2 separate regions of the Homo sapiens genome follow, and region 1 is linked to region 2. Evidence: fine-mapped expression QTL. A gene starts in region 2. The other region holds a variant in brackets. All regions are shown on one strand. Distances are between the middles of the regions. Region 1 has its middle 9.0 kb from the start of LINC01863. Region 2 holds the start of LINC02995 (long intergenic non-protein coding RNA 2995).

The links. PIP is the estimated chance that this variant, and not a neighbour inherited with it, causes the effect. A credible set is the group of variants that fine-mapping cannot tell apart.
Region 1: its variant is the best candidate, but not a certain one, in a credible set for the expression of LINC02995 in subcutaneous fat (TwinsUK, PIP 0.82).

Annotation. Positions count from the first base shown.
Region 1 is chr5:173,629,040-173,637,606 of GRCh38, forward strand. No RefSeq gene overlaps it. Among named protein-coding and RNA genes, the nearest start is that of LINC01863, 9.0 kb to the right of the region's middle. RefSeq lists enhancers at 1-43, 3,892-5,091. The variant G/A (reference allele first, on the strand shown) is at 4,332.
Region 2 is chr5:173,575,587-173,584,263 of GRCh38, forward strand. It overlaps LINC02995 (long intergenic non-protein coding RNA 2995), which reads left to right and starts at 4,048. Exons shown (of 4, transcript NR_027108.2): 1 at 4,048-4,096; 2 at 4,643-4,789; 3 at 7,692-8,322; 4 at 8,524-8,677.

The DNA.
Region 1 (8,567 bases), 53 kb after region 2:
GTTGGCCCTCGCTATTTAACTGAGCCTTCACTCACTCACTCATTCATACAAATACTTATCTAATGCCTTCCACGTGCTACCCTGTGCTAGGGGGTAGGGCAAGAAGAGTAAGTAAAAGGTAGCACAGTTTCAGTACTTGGAGCTTAGCCAGCAAGCAAGCAACAAACAAAAAAGCAAACATGCAAAATCAAGATCAAAATCATTTTGGGTGCAGATAAGTTGATGATCAGAGGAGGCCTCTCTTGGGAGGTGACATTTGAGCTAAGACCTAAATAACAAGAAGGAGCTGGGTACACTTAGACCTACAAGGCAGGAAGAGGGTCCCAAGGTAGGGAACAATAGCAAAGGCTTGGAGATGGGAACAAGCCTGGCCTGACCGAGGGGCAGCGGGGACGAGGATGGCTGCAGGGGGAGGCCTTGCGGGAGTTCAGGTTGCATTCTAAGAATTCTGGGGAGCCACTGGAGAGGTTATTTCACAGTGTTGGGAACAGGAAAAGCAGGAAGTCGGCCTGGAGGATTGGGGCTGGAGCCCAGAATGTGTGCTGGGTGTCACTGGCTCTCACCAACCTCTCCTTGGAGGCTGGATCTGGCCCCCTCTTTGCCTTGCACATGCTGCAACTCTGCATGACAGGGCAGGTCTTGCAGAACAGTGATGCAGCAATACCTAACTCAGCATTATTATGTGTGGCCCACCTTCTCAGAAGTGCATGTCTCCCCCAACCTCAGGGTTACCCCTGCATGGAGGAGTAGACCCCCTGCTGCTCCCCACACACCTGCCCTGGCATGGAGCACATGCTGCTATAGCAGCCAGGGACCTACTGGAGTCAGAGATGCTCTTCCCAGGCTTGGCCTGATGGGGGCAGTATCAGGAGAGCTCCATGGTGGGCCGGTCCTCCATCCCCCCAGGCTGAGTCCACCCTCTCAGCCAAGATGCCCCTGGTCCAAGCTGTGCCATAGGCCCTGCAGCCACCCTAGGGGTGGAATCTGGAGTCCTAAGACTGTGATAGCATGACCAGCCAGTTCACAAAGCACTGCACCCTTGGGGTCAGACAGCCAAGAGCTCCCTGTGTTATGGAGCTTGAGATTCTCCCCATTGAAAGGGAGCTAAGAAGTTAAGAGGCATTGAATCCAGCCTCATACATTCACTCAGTAAATGTTTGTCAAGCTTCTATGATGTGCCATACATTATATCAGCACAGGGTTATATACTAAAGATGGAGGACTCTGTGGCGCCCAAAGCAGAAATGATTCTGGCCCTCATGGACATCTGTATTTCTAGGGGGGTGAACAGACACAGAACAAATCAACCTACAAATACATAATTCTAAACCATGACAAGTGACAGAAAAGACAGAAACAAAGCATGGGGCTTATGTTCCAGATCCAGGAGTGGCCAAACTGGATCCGACGGTACAGAGATGAATGGCTCAGCTAAGATCAGAATCATAAAACACCATTTTGAAGGGCACTGATGCATTCCCAGAATGCCTGTATCATATATGAAATTCATTATTAACAATAACTGCCAAAATAAATCAATATGAAAACGATGTTGTGGAGAAAGTCTGTCTGGCTAGTATTGAGACTCGTTGGCGAATCTTGACATAACGAAAGTTGTTAAATGTAGTGGTCTGTTTACTGTGTTTGTAAACACAAAAATGAGAACAGATGACATGTTTGTGGAGCTTCTTCTGTGTCAGGCACTGTGGTGGGCACTGGGGGCCCAAGGATAAGCACCCTGCTTGTTTGGCATTGCCTGGAAGTAAAGCACTCCCACCCACACACCGGAAGCCCCTCACAGTGACTGCCTGCACTGTGCCAAGTGAGGGATGGCTGGGCTGCACATTCCTGGGCTGTCTGTTTTGTTTTGCTTCAAGATTTGACCTTGTCGCCAGATTTCTGTCAAGATTAACCTGGCAGAGTTTCTGATGTAGTTCATTCTACAGCGAGTTAGGCTTCCGCATTTGATGAAGTCAATATACCTGCATCATGGTGAGGCAGGCACAGAAGAGGAGGTTTGCGTGGCAGAACAATCCCTTTTTAGATTAGGAAACATAGAATTCATGTTGGAGAAAAGAGTGCTATTTCTGTCTCCAATCCGATTTTGTACCCACTTTCAGTTTTAAGCTGTGCCCCATTCCAGAGCAAAATCCTCCTCTCCTTCCTCTCCTCCTCTCCCCCACTGCCCCCTTCTTTTTCTCCTCAAGTCCTCCCTCCTCCCTCCCTTCATCTCCTACCCCCCTCCTCCTCCTCATCTCCTACCCCCCTTCTCCTCCTCATCTCCTACCCCCCTCCTCCTCCTCATCTCCTACCCCCCTTCTCCTCCTCATCTCCTACCCCCCTTCTCCTCCTCATATCCTACCCCCCTTCTCCTCCTCATCTCCTACCCCCCTCCTCCTCCTCATCTCCTATCCCCCTCCTCCTCATCTCCTACCCCCTCCTCCTCATCTCCTACCCCCCTCCTCCTCATCTCCTACCCCCTCCTCCTCATCTCCTACCCCCCTCCTCCTTATCTCCTCCTTCTTCCTCTTCCATCTCACGATCTCTTCCCCATCTTCCTCCTCCCCTCTCCTCCTCCCAGTCCTCATCTTCTCCACTCTCTTCCTCATCCCTCACCGCAACTCTTCCCTCCTCCTATTCTTCTTCCTCCCCTTCCTCCCACCTCATCTTCCTCTTCATTCCTTCTCTCTCCTTCCTCCCTCTCTTTCTCTCTGCCTTCTCCTCCTTTTAAAATCAATCCAGATTTACTTGGCTTTTGATTTGTGATTTAGTAGTGATCAGGAGATTTGATGTTAAAGGAAAATCGGATAAGCCCAGAGCCACTGACCTAATTGATAGGAGTTGCCATTGCCTCTGTTTTTCTGTATAAAATGGGAACAGTTTTTTGTACAATACAAGTACAATACAATACAAGTATTTATTTGGGCCCATATCTATTTTCACTAGTCTTCTGAGTTCTGTGAGGAACAAGAAAGGAATGAGTAGGACAATGTCCTCCCTCTTAGCAACTTCCTATCTCAATGGAGACCGCCTATCGAATGGGAATTTTCTACCCCAAGACACCTGAGACAGACCACAGTACACGCTGTGAGTGATTGAAGCACAGGCTCTAAATGCTGGCAGAGATCAGGCTCAGTATGGGCTGGAGGGAGGCTCCACAGACAATGTTCATCTTTTTTTTTTTTTTTTTTTTTGAGACAGAGTCTCACTCTGTCGCCCAGGCTGGAGTGCAGTGGCGTGATCTCAGCTCACTGCAACCTCTGCCTCTCGGGTTCAAGAGATTCTCCTGCCTCAGCCTCCCAAGTAGCTGGGATTACAGGCGCCTGACACCACGCCTAGCTAATTTTTGTATTTTTAGTCGAGATGGGGTTTCACCATGTTGGCCAGGCTGGTCTCGAACTCCTGATCTTGTGATCTGCCTGCCTCGGCCTTCCAGAGTGTTGGGATTACAGGCATGAGCCACCGCACCCAGCCTGACAATGTTCATCTTTAACAAAGTTCTGAAATTTGGGAAGATCTAGAATTGGAGGGCTAGGTACTTCTAATTCTGATGAAGGGAGAACAGTCATGATCATAGTACCAAACTCTCTCCCCTAATTCCCTGTTCCCATGGGGAAGGGACCAGCCTTTTCATGTCCTGCTCTTCTTCCCCTTTATTGCAGTCCCCTACCCTGAGCTGGTTTTGGTATCGGCCCTTTCTTCTTCCCTTTCCTCTCAATCTTGCTCATTATGTGGGACCTCAGCACTCCAGGGAGAAGCAAATGTCCTAGGCACAACAGCAAAACAGTGCATGTGGCAGAAGGCCATGGATGCTGACCTGAGCCTGGATCCCCGCTCCGCTCAAGATTCGTGGACTTAGGAGATTCAATCGACTTAGGAGATTCAATCGACAAGTTGAGCGAGGCGTCCAAGTTTGCTCCTGAAAATTGGGGGTGATAATCCTACTTCACAGGACTGCTGTTAGGATTCAACAAGGCAATGCCTGGGTAAGCAGTAAGGTGCAGATAGAGATGCTCCCAAAATATTAGCTCTAACTTTTTCTCAGCTCTTTTCAGCTAAGCACGATGGCAAATAAAACCTTCAGGGGACACAGAAGATGAAAGAATTCACACTCTGGAATCTGTTCACCGTGGGCTTGGTCTCTGTTTCTGGTTCCAGAAGAGGTATATTATGAACAAGTGAACTGTCCTCTCTGAGCTGCAGTCTCCTCATCTGTAAAACAAATATCCAGAGCCCCCCCTCCACGGAGGGCTGTGCTCAGCATGAAACTAGCAATGCATGTGAAATGTTGAACCCATTGGTGGCGTGTAGAAGGTGCTGGCATCACTGCC[G/A]TGGTGACCTTGGCTTAGTCAAGGTCACAGATATGGTGCCCCTTGGTGGCATCAGTATAGGGCTAGAGCTTTGTACCAACCTTAGAAAGATGATGAAACATGTTGGAAACGCTGAATCATCTCTACCAAGTCTTTACATGAAGTTTGCCGTCAAGGTATCTGCAGGCCAGGAAGCGTGTTTGGAAACAGGAGCTGGGCGCCTCCATGGGATTGATCTTCTTGAATTGCCCTTTGGAGGCCACTCACCACATCCGGTCCTCCCTAGAATCCACACACTGCCAAGAGCTCATCGCGGATCAAGAGCATAGTAACCAAACCCGGGGCAGCTGGCATTCTGGGGTGCTTTGTTCGCTAACCTTAAAAGCAAACCCAGCAACCCAGCACACTGGCAACAACCCATCAGCCTGCTTCAGGCAGGTCAGAGCCTGGGGACAGAGGAGCTTTCCTCGTCTGCTTATTAGAGTGACAGCCATGGAGATAAAAGTTTAATGTGCCGATTATCTTTCTGTTTTCGGGTGCCCGGCAGGACTGAATGGGCTACCTCATCCAAGCAGCCCATGGAGGGTGGGTGTGTGAAGTTGAAAACGGAAGGATACTCAGCTGATAGGATGGCAACACCGCTGCATTCTTGATCAGGGCTCCATGTGCCCTGAGCTGTCCCCAGAACCTGGCTATAGGGCCTGGTTCAGGCATTTCCACATTTCTCAGGTCCGGAGGGTTCGTTAGGGACACAACAGAGGGACCCGACTAAAATAAGCCCCCAGGAATAGAACTATTTGCAGGCATGACTGGGTGCTGTGGCTCACACCTGTGATCCTAACACTTCGGGAGGCCGAGGCAGGCAAATCACTTGAGCTCAGGAGTTCAAGACCAGCCTGGGCTGGGCAACATGGCAAAGTCCCTTCTCTACCCAAAATACAAAAACTTACTCAGCTGTGGTGGCACGCGTCTGTGGTCCTAGCTACTTGGGAGGCTGAGGTAGAAGGATGGCTTGAGCCTGGTAGGTGGAGGCTGCAGTGAGCTATGATCGAGCCACTGCATTCCAGCCTGGGTGGAAGAACAAAAGCAAAAACAAACACAAAAAAAACCAAGAACTATTTGCAGGCAAACCAAAGGAACATACATCTGAATATATTTTCATGCTTCTTCACAGGCTTGAAATGAATGGTGCTAACAGAGCCTGCCCTTATTACGAGAAAGTGTGCTGTGAAACTGATGTGGGGCAGGAACAGGCTCGTCCTCCCCTGGTGATATTTAACAACAATAATTATTGTGATAATAACAAAAGTGACTCACATTGATTGGGCACTCAGTATGTGTCAGGCGGTTTTCTCAGCACACACCTTAGTGCATTCAATCATCACCACAAGCCCATGAGGTAGGGTGCTAGTATCCCCATTTTACAGAGGGGAACACCGAGGCTCAAAAAGCAAGAATAAGAACCAAGAGATAATATTCTTAGATTCATGTGGGCCCAGCCATCATAGAGCCTGTAGTCTGGTGCACAGACCTTGATGCATGACATCAGTGCAGAAAAGCAATGCTGAGGAAAGGGATTGTGGGGAGAGGATTGGAAAGGAGGGATGTGTAAGCCTGGAAAGATAGGTTGGATTCAAGCAGTAAATCAAGATGGAAGGAGAAAGGAGGAAGGGACTCCTGGTGGAGGTCATAGCTCTGGGTAAGAGGAAAGAATTCCAGTGTATCTAAACTGGGAATTCACAGCAGGTGGGGCTAGAAAGGGGAGGTGGAGTTGCATTGGGAAGCCTTGAATGCCAAGTCGGGGGAACTAGGCTTGATTTGGTCAACATCAGGGGACAGCTAAAGTTTGGAGCAGTGGTGGCCCAGGAGGCTGCTCTTCCTCTTGGCTTCCTCTAGGGAAGTAAGCAAACAGAACAAAAGTGGGCTTTGGAGTAAGCCAATTCTGATTTTAATCTTGATTTTCCTCATGGATTTGCTCTGTGTCCCTAAGGAAGTTTCCTAACTTCTCTGAACAAAGACAATAATTGTATGCATTTCATAGGTTTTTGGAGGTAAATATAATGTATGCAAAGTGTGAGGTTATGTAATAGGTATTCCATGATGGCGGCCAATATTCTTCTTTATTAATCATATGGGCAGGGTGAGGTGACTCACACCTGTAATCTCAGCATTTTGGGAGGCCAAAGGGGACAGATCACTTGAAGTCAGTTGTTCAAGACCAACCTGGCCAACATGATGAAACCTCATCTTTACTATAAATATGAAAATTAGCTAGGCATGGTGGCGTGCGCCTGTAATCCCAGCTACTCAGGAGGCTGAGGCAGGAGAATCGCTTGAACCTGGGAGACAGAGGTTGCAGTGAGCAGAGATCACGCCACTGCACTCCAGCCTGGGCGACAGAATGAGACTCCATCTCAAAAGAAAAAAAAAATCATATGAACTGTCCTGTTTATTTTCATTTTTTTGGTGCCTTGCCTTCCTAGGACCTGTCCTTCTGAAACCAGAAATATAAAGATCCACTTTCTTTCTGCATGAACTCCTACTCAATCCTCAAGACCCATTTTAAAAATTCACTGTGAAACCTTTGCTAACTTCCGCATTGGAAAACAAATCACTCTATCTGCCATGGCTCCAACTGGCCCTCATCACATGACATGGTAATTACGTCTGTTTATGGTCTCTCTTCTCAGCCAGATTGGGAGTTTCTGGAGGTGCAGAGACTGCTACACTCCCCTCACTTAAATGGTTCTCCTACTGTGGTCTGCAGAACCGTGGAGGACCTCCTAAACCCTTTCAGAGGGCCTCACAGTGAAAACTATTTTCGGGGCTGGGTGCAGTGGCTCAAGCCTGTAATCCCAGCACTTTGGGAGGCCGAGGCGGGCAGATCACGAGGTCAGGATCGAGACCATCCTGGCTAACACGGTGAAACCCCGTCTCTACTAAAAATACAAAAAAATTAGCCGGGCATGGTGGCGGGCGCCTGTAGTCCCAGCTACTGGGGAGGCTGAGGCAGGAGAATGGTGTGAACCCGGGAGGTGGAGCTTGCAGTGAGCTGAGATCGCGCCACTGCACTCCAGCTCGGATGACAGAGCTAGACTCTGTCTCAAAAAAAAAAAAAAAAAAAAAAAAAAGAAGAAGAAGAAAAGAAAACTATTTTCATAATAACTCCGGGATATTATTTCTTTTTTCATTGTGTTGTCATTTACACCTGCGGTGGTAAAACTGCTTACACCTTAGTATGAATCAAGGGAGTGGCCCCGAAGTGTACAGGTACTCATTGTATTCTTCTTATCACCTACTTGCATTAAAACACATGCCAGTTTCACTTAGAAATACTCTTAATGAAGCAGTAAAATTTGTTTTTTTGTTGTTGTTGTTGATTTTTTGTTTTTTTTTTTGAGATGGAGTCTCACTCTGTCGCCCAGGCTTGACTGTGGAGTGGCCAATCTCGGCTCACGGCAACCTCTGCTTCCCGGGTTCAAGTGATTCTCATGCCTCAGCCTCCTGAGTAGTTGGGACTACAGGCATGTGCCACCCATGCCCAGCTAATTTTTTTTTTTTTTGTATTTTTAGTAGAGACAGGGTTTCACCATGTTGGCCAGGCTGGTCTTGAACTCCTGACCTCAAGTGATCCACATGCCTCGGCCTCCCAAATGAAGCAGTAAAATTATTAATTAAAAAATTCTCAACCCTTGAATGCATGTCTTTTTAATAATCTGTGTGAAAAAATGGAAAGTATGCATAAAGCACTTCTCACTCCGGCTGCCTACCAAAGCACAATGGTTGAAGGTAATGACAAGGAGAAGCACATGTGATTGTTTGAGCTGAAATAGCCACTTTTTTCATGGAACACTCATTTTACTTGAAAGAATTCACACACACACACACACACACACACACACACACACAGACAGCACAACCCATGGTTATTTAGATAGGTTTTCTGGCAGATGTTTTCCCAAAAAGTAACAAAATGAGGCTGGCACTTCAAAGAAAGCAATTAACAGTACTTGTTGCCAATGATAAAATTCAAGCTAAGTGAAAATTAGAAGTTTGGAAAATTTTATCTGCAACTATGAGGGTGGCAACTTCCCATTACGCTTCTCCCATGAGATCTGTGGTGATATGGAGGCATATGGTTTTTGATACTGTATAATGAAATGTGTCAATATTTGAAAGATCTGCGGGGGAGGCAGCGAAGCAATAGTTTCCAAATGAATAAAATACGTGATGTTATCAAATCGTGCATGGGTAAAA
Region 2 (8,677 bases):
GCCCAGTCCCCATGCTGGGACCGAGAGGGCAAAGCGTGCAGAGAAGGCTGCACACCCTGCAGCCTCAGCCAGCGCGTGATAGGGGAGCTCTGGGCAGGGACAAAGCTGCAGTCCCTGTCCCTGAATGTCGGGGCGGGGGGGGGCGGGGATAGAAAGGAGAAAATGGGGCAGAGAGAAAAGAAAGCGGTGGCGTGCACATGCCCAGGCCCTTTGCTCCACTTTCCATGCTATATGAGACACTTCCCAAAATTCACACTCCCTGGGACCCTGAGGATGGGGGCTGTATCAGAGGAATTAATTCAGTCACAGGAGGACAGGAGTCCAGCTCTGACTCAGTCCCAGTGGAGCATCGTAGAAAACCGACAACCAGTGTCCAAGGAGCCCACTTTGGTGTCTGATGGGTCACCAGGAAGAGTTTATTAGATTCCTGAAAATCATAAGTAAGCATCCCTGCTTTGTGGAATTTCAGTTGGTGAGTGACAATGCCAAGTATGCAATTTGTCCTTCAACTTTTCATTTATGCCACACCGCGTGCTGGGCTCTCTGCAGGTGCTGGTGAAACAGACATGAAAAGGCACAACCCCTGCCTCGGGATCTGGTGGCAAGATCAACAGGTAAACTGCAGGTCTGATACGGATTGACAGGTGCCACTCAGAGTGAGTACGGGTGGCAGAAACTCAGAGGGGTCCGCCTGCCCAGTCTGGGATTGGGAAAGGCATCTGATTAGTTTCTCATGGCTGTTGTAACAGATTACCACTACCTTAGTGGCTTAAAACAACATAAATGTATTCTCTTATGACACTGAAGGTCGTTAAGTGTGAAATCAGTTTCCCTGGCTATAGGTGTCATCTGAGCTGGTCTTTTCCGGAGGCTCCAGGGGAGAATCGCTTCCTGGCCCTGTTCAGCTTTGGGAGGCTGCCTGCATCCTTGCCTGCAGCCCCCTTCTCCTTCTTCAAAATGCACCCCTGCAACCTCTGCACCCAACATCACACGGCCTTCCCTGCTGCACTCAAATGCCCGTCAGCCTCCCTCATTATGGACACTTGTGATGACATTTAAGGCCCATCTGGATAATCTAGGACACTCTTGCCATCTCCACATCCTTACCCACACCTGCAAAGTTCCTTTTGTCATAGAAGGTAGCATTCCTGAGTTCCAGGGATTGGGACATGGACATTTTGTGGTGGGCATTAGTTGGCCTGCACAGCTGCCTAGAGCAGACATCTCTGCAGCGGCAGGCCAGAAGAGTGAGGGTGCTCCTGGGTGAGGGCCTTGGTGGAGTGGCAAAGGCAGGGAGGGAGAAAGCCTGGCATAGTCAGGGAAGGACAGATGAGCAGGAAAGGCTGGCAGGGGCCAGATCTCATAGGGTCTTGAAATCTCAGCTTAGTCCTGAAGGAATTGCGTCTTGCACAAAACCTAAACATTGAGTGAAGGCTGTTGTCTCAGCCAGGGCCCTAACAGGACACAGATGACACACTAAGATGGGTAACTGAAGTGTGGGTTGATAAAGACGCTGTCTGCAAAGGGGTGGACGGGGTTAGGGAAGCCAGCAGAGCATGGAGCATGCCTGGGACTGACACAGCTGTGAGGTGCTACTGTCTCTTTGGGGAGCTGTGCCTACCCCTAGACCCGAAGAGAGGAGGCCAGGGAGTGGCTATCAGAACCCAGAGAGGGTGGCTGTGTGGAGAAGCACATATGAGTCTGCAGTAAAGGGACACAGCCTACCTGTGGTAACCTGGCAGGGAAGGACCGGGGGTAACAGATGTCCAAGTCCATTCTTCCTGCCCTGTGAGGGCCTGCCCATGCTCCCATTGGCCAAACCCCACTTGAAGCCAGAGAGCAAGAGTGATTGTCCCCATGGCATGGCTGGGTGGGCACAGCAGGGAGGAGGAAGATGGGGTGGGGACAGAGACACCCAGCGCAGGTGTCACATGGGGAGTAGCACCACCAGATCATTGTGGAGAAAGATCACACTGGCCGTGATGTGGAGGGTGGACCCGAGTGGGACAGAGGAGGAGGTGGGGAGGTCAGGGCATTCCAAGTGATTTAAAAAGCACATTAAAAAATGCATTTCCCTAGTTAGGGGTCCATTTACCCGAAGAGGTATCTGGGATTGTTCTGCTCCCAGCTGTGTCTGGTAGAGTGGAATTCGTCCCAAAGTTGCTGTTATATATCACACCAAATGTCTCCCTTGCAAAGGTGCAGCGCCAGTAGAAGGCCTCAGGCAGGCTTGGTTGCAAACAACAGAAACCACTTGTATTGAGTTTAAGCAGAAATGGGATTTATCACTGGCTACTTGGGGGCCCCAGCATCTTTTGAATGACCTGGGAACTGGGCTCTAGAATATGGCCCAAACGTGCCACCTACTGCAGAGCAGCTCCAGGAAACAACACGGCAGCCTGCCCTGAGTAGGGCAACTGCAAAGGGGCTTCCAATGTCGCCTCCCCGCCAGGGTGGAGCCCATGGGACCTTGCTTCGTCCTGGAGCCCCTGGCTCTGAATCTGAGTCTGGTGCAGGTACATCTGTATGGTGAGTTTGGTCACATGCCTGCACCCTCCTGTCTGAGAAATAGAGTTTCTGGCTCCTCTAGACAGTCAGGGACTGAGGAGGCAGGAGCTCCCCAAAGAAAAGATGTTTGAAGCACTGGACAAGAAGAAAGCGGGACGAATGTTCATTACAGGTAAATAAAGGTAAATTACTTTAAAGCTCAGACCGTCAGGTATCCCAAGGAGAGACGGCATGCGTGTGAGTGTCATGTGTGTGAGTATCATGCATGTGAGTGGTTCCATCCTTAGGAAGAAAAACATGGGAGGAACCTGCAGTGTGCAGCCTCTGTCCAGACCCACCTGCTGAGGGGCCCAGGCACCCCAAAGTATACCCTAAATATGATCAGATCCAGGGAGCATTGTGACTGAGTTTTCAGGTTAGCCTCTGTGCAACCTGACTTCCCATGGGCAGGGTGGAGTGCTGGGAGCATTGATTCAATTCTTCCCTTGAGCACTCTTCACCCCCATCTCTCTCCAGAAATGTACCGAGAGTCTAACTGCTCTATACTCTGGGAGGAACACGAACATGATTCCACCTCAGTTCCAAGCTTTCTGAGAACCATCCTGGGAACCAGCAAGCATGACAACTCTCCACCTTCTGCATCAGTCACTTGCAAGGAGGCCAGTGGGCACAGTTCATGCTACTGAGTGAGATGGCGCCCAGAGGCCAAGGCCAAGGGCAGGGCTGCATTTTCTGGTTCTTTTATATTTGTAGCAAGATACTCTTAGTGGAAGAGCCCAATATCTGGGCTTGCCTAAAAGTCTCCTTAGCTAGATCATTCAATTTATGAGCTTTCCATCTTGTTGCAGTGTTGCTTAATTTCTGCCTCTCCATAACAAGAATCACCTTTCTTCCAGTCTCTAATGCATTGTTCTCACTTTCCTATAAACCCTCACCAACATTCTCCTCCCACTACTGGCTTCTCCAGTGCCCTTTAGGCTTTCTCTGACACTTTCTTCAAAGTCCTTTCAGCTTCTGCCCTCTGCTCAGTTCCAAAGACGCTCCCACATTGGTAGGTTTATGTTCCATCAGCACCCCACTTCTGGTACTAAGCTTTATATCAGCTATCTACTGTTAGGCAACAGCCAAAACTTAGTGACTTAAAACAGACACAAACATATATTATCTTTCACAGTCTCTGTGAGTCGGGAATTCAGGAACAGCTTAGCTGGGTGTTCTGGCTCCAGGTCTCTCATGAGGTTGCAGTCTAGATATGAGCTGGGACAGTGGTCATCTGAAGGCTGGAATGAGGCTGGAGGATCCACTTCCAAGGTGGCTGACTCAGATGGTTGGCAAGTTGGTGCCGGCTGCGGCAAAGGCCTTGTTTTCTCTCCAGGTGGACCTCTCCACAAGGCTACTTGAGCAGCCTCACAACATGGTAGCTGCTTCCCCAGGGCAAGTGATCCAAGAGCAAAGGTTGAAGTCACAATGCCCTTATGACTTAGCCTTGGATGTGACACACCATCACTTCTGCAGTATTCTACTGGTAACACTGACCAGCTCTGATTCAGTTTGAGAAAAGAGGACACAAAAGCATGAATAACAGGAGGTAAGTTTCACTGAGGGCCTGTGGATCATCTGGGAGCTGTCTACCACCAATAGTCAAAAGAAAAAATTAGGTATAAATATATGCATACGTGTGTGTATATATATATGTATGTATAATTTTAAAAATATATATTTATTATAAAAGTAATTAATATTATTTGTAGAAATTTAAAAAAAATTTAGAGTAGCAAAAATAAGACAGTAAAGATTACCCCATAATAGCTCCATGCAGAGAAAAATCATTATCAACATTTTGGGGTATATCTTATCAGCCTGAACTTTAAACATTTTTACAAAAATGGAATAATACTGGACAAAATCTTTCATGCTATCAATTTTTTCATTTACTAGTACAGTCAAAAACACAGTTTTATTGCATCTTTTTTCATGGTAACATTATATTCCTGCCAGTGATTAAGATGTAATTGATTTTTCCAATGCGCTATTACTGGACATGTAAAGGTTCTCAAATTGTTACATCATTAACAAAACTGGAATGACCATCTTCAGAGCTAACTTGCTGTCTTTATCCCTGATCTTTCCTTAGGATGGATATAGAATACCAGCATCAGCAAGTGTACACGATTTAAAGCACATTTGGTATCTATTACCAAGCTGCCCTTCAGAGAGGTTGTCTCGTTACACATTCCACAGCTGTGACTGAGAAACCGTCTTGTCGCATTTGACAATCCAGGTTACTATCTAAAAACTTGAGTTTGTAAGAGCAACACGCCATGAGATAATATTCGTGCAAATGTAACTGACAAAAGACTAACATCCCATAATACTAGAGCACCTACAAACCAAGAAGATAAACATCCCATTGGGAAAGTGTAAAAATATGAACATAAAGTTTACAGAAGAAAAAACACAAATGGCTCATAAACACACAAAAAGATGATATTGCTTCCTGGTAATTGGGGAAATGCAAACAAAAACTACAATGAAATATCGTGGTATCGTGTATCAAATTTGCAGAGCATAAAATAGATTACATTCGCAACCAGCAACTACAACCCAACCTTCAGCCTCACTGGACTTCTTGCCATTCCCCAAACCATATCCACGCCCCTCTCCACAGGCTGTTCCTTCTGCCTGCATGCCCTCGATGGCACCAAGGGGGATGGGCACACTAACACAACTGCTGGGAATGGGAAAGTTTCAACCTCTTGGGAATAAAATCTAACAGTATTTATTGGAATGTAACCTGTGCATACTCCACAGCTGGGCCACTACCCTGCAAGAACCCCTCTGGCTGCTGCACAAAGCTCTTCTCTGCATCCTTTTTTATACTAGTGGAACCCTGGACACAGCCTGCATATGGATCAAAAGGGCAGTGGTTATAAATATACTATGGTCCATCTCTAGGCTAGACTGTGATGCAGTGGTTAAAGCCAAGTATTGCAGAAGAGTGATTAAGCATTCGTGCTCCAAAGCCAGATAGCCTAGGTTTCAATCCCAGCTTTGCCACTTACTTGCTGTGTGATCTTGTGCAACTCACTTAGCCTTTCTGTGTCACAGTTTCTCCATCTGTATAACGGACGATAACACTAGCCCCTACCTCATAGGGTCATTGTGAAGAGTAAATGAAATTAATATTGCCTATGTCACAGAGTGATCCTCCTCAAAATCTATTAGATGAAAAAAGAAATTTCTAGAAATTATCTACATACATATTCTGATGGGATTTGTGTAAAGAATTTAACCAACAAACCCATATTACACACACATACACACACACTCACACAGACACACTCACACACACACACACGCACTCACGTGCGTAGAAGTAGATCTAGGAAGATCCATGACACACATGCGAGGCAGGTGAATGGGGACATTAAAAGGAGGACTTCCACGTTTAATTCTGAATGGTCTATTTTATTTGTGCAATTTTTAAAAATCAAAGCAATAAATCACTGTAAAAGAAACCTGCCAGGTTTTGAGTCTTACCATTCTACCCCGGGCTCACCCTTCTCTCTCATTGAATCTCAGGTGTCTTCGGGATCATTTAGTTTAGAAGAGGAAGAAATGTCCCTGGACCCCACCAGTTGAACACTAATGCTCCTTTGGGGATTGCGCCCTCACTGTCTCTCTAAGCATCTGTGGATTGGGGTCTTGTCCCTGCGGGCTCCTCCCGCCTACTCAGAGTGCGCCCTCTGGTGGTGATAACTTGCAGTACTGCGCGCCCACAGCACGTGTGGGGAAGGCGAAAAGCTTTGCTGATTCTCCCAGGGGCCTCAGCCCAGGAGCCCTGGGCTTTGACTCTGGGTCTAGTGCTAGTGGTGGTACCAGATCTCTGTCCCTTGTCGAGGAAGGACACTCTCTATTTGTTTTTAAGTTGTCTCTATCTAGGATTGTCAGATTTAGCAACTAAAAACACAGGATGCCTGGTTAAATTTGAATTTTAGAGAAATCACAAATAACTTTTAGTATGAGTATGTTGCATGACATCTACTAATTTTACACAACTCATACTTATATTAAACAAAATTATTTGTGGTTTCTCTCAGGCTTAAATTCCACTGGGCGCCTGTGTCTTATCTTGTGACTGTGGGAGGAGATCTGTTGGGAAGCGGGTAGGGGAGGTGGTGAGAAAGGAAGGGAGAAGGCCTGGGTATGGTGTGTGATGGAAGGGCACGATGGTTCAGGCGAGTCTTTGGTTGCAGGAGACTGTAAATGGCATCTGCTCTCCAGGCAGCTGGAGCTGTCAGGCTGTAGAACAATGCTGCTCAGCCCTGGGAGCTTTGAAAACCTGACGTGTGGGTCTGATTCCCACAGATTCTGATGTCATTGGTTTGGTGGCATTGGGGTGAGGGTAGGCTCTGGCATTTTTTAAAGCCCCAGGCAATTCAAATGTGCAGCCAAGGTTGAGGACCACTACTCTAGGGGATCTGCAGTGTGTGCATGTGTGCGTGTGAGTGTGCATGTGCGTGTGTGCGCATGTGCGTGTGTGCACCCACTCGTGTATCCCAGATGCCTTCAGCTTGCATATTCCCAAGTTCACCAGTCTGGGGTCCTTCCCGAGAGCCTCCCAGTCCACATGTTATGGAAAAGCCTTGGGCCCTTTCCAAGATGTTTCTAGATTCCCCCAGGGCTTATATTTTACTGGTCATCCCTGGCTCTGATTTCCTGTTCACACTGAGCACTCCCATCTCATTCCTTTCTTCCCCCGGGACTGTGTTTTCTTTCTGCCTGTCAACTTAATGCTGGTCTTTCAATGACCACCAGCAGCTCACAGCTGTCAAGTTTAGCAGATGTTTCCTGCAGGTCTGCAGTTAACAAGAGGTGTCATCCCCAAAGTAAATGATTCTACACTGAAGTCCCCATCTGGGCGGGGAACTCCTGCTAGGAGGAATTTATCACTGGCCATTTCCTCCTCCAATTCCCTCTGCCTCATTTTTACTTCTAGGCCCTCTCATTCTCTTTCAGAAATCACTTTGTCCCCTCCCAAAAAAACAAAGAAACAAAAACAGAAACAAACCCTTCTTCCTCTAGCAGTCAGCATGCAGCTGCTGATCAAGTTCCAAATTGCAGTTCCTTTCTTAATCAGAACAACTCAACTCATTTTTCCTATACCTCTCCTATGTGTCCAGGTATTTCCGAGAGTGATGCATGCTCCTTGGGAAGCATTGGGAATTCTGCACTTCTGGGCCAGCCAGCTCCAACTGCAGCCAATGTTTAAAAAATAGCATCTCTCCCTTCCTTCTATATGTACAGATCTTCAGGGATTTAGCAAATTCTCTTAAATAGCTAGAAGACCTTGCTGACTTCGATGCAAATATTCTGGCCAGAGAACTGAGGTCCTTGGATGAAACCCAATAATCAGAGGGGTCACAGTTTCCTTAGCCCAGGAGGAAGGCAGCTGGTGTCTCAGCAGATGTTCCTAAAGGCCTGGCTTTTTCCACATCTGTTCTGTGTGGTAGACAAGGAGAAGAGGAAGGGAGGAAGGGAACAGAGAGGAAGCAGAGAGAGCTGAAGATTAAAACAATACTGTACAGGTCCCCGCTAAAGATGGACTCTCTGGCTGCCAGGAAAGGACTGAGAGATAAATAGGAGGAGCATAAGAACCTGGGAGCTGGAGGCTGGTCCACCTCCCTCAGCTTCCAGGACCCAGAGGGAGGCAGGCACAGCCAGCCTTGGCCCTGTGGAACCAACACCTTCCAGCCAGGCTGCCAGGAAGCCAAATTCCAAATGTCTAAACTGTATTTTGCACTTTTCCACAAGGTGACCTGCAGCTGCTCTGATGGCCCCTAGGATTCTGTAGGGTACTGTGCAGTCCAGAAAACTTGACTTCCCAATTCTTCCCACTTAGCCAGCTGCCATTTCCTTCCCTCCTAACCACTTTCCTTCCTATTCTTTTCCCTCTGTATTTTCCCCCTTTGTTTTAAAAGTTCAACATGAAACTTTACTCTGTACACTCATCAGGTCAGCAAAAATTAGAAAGTCAGCTAATGCCAAGTGTTAGCTGGAGTAGGGGGGGAAGAGGAACCCTTGTTCTCTGCAAGGGAGTATGAGAAGGTGCAGCCACTCCGGAGGCTGTCTGATGGTGCTGGTTCAAGTCGACTGCGTAAGTCTTCTG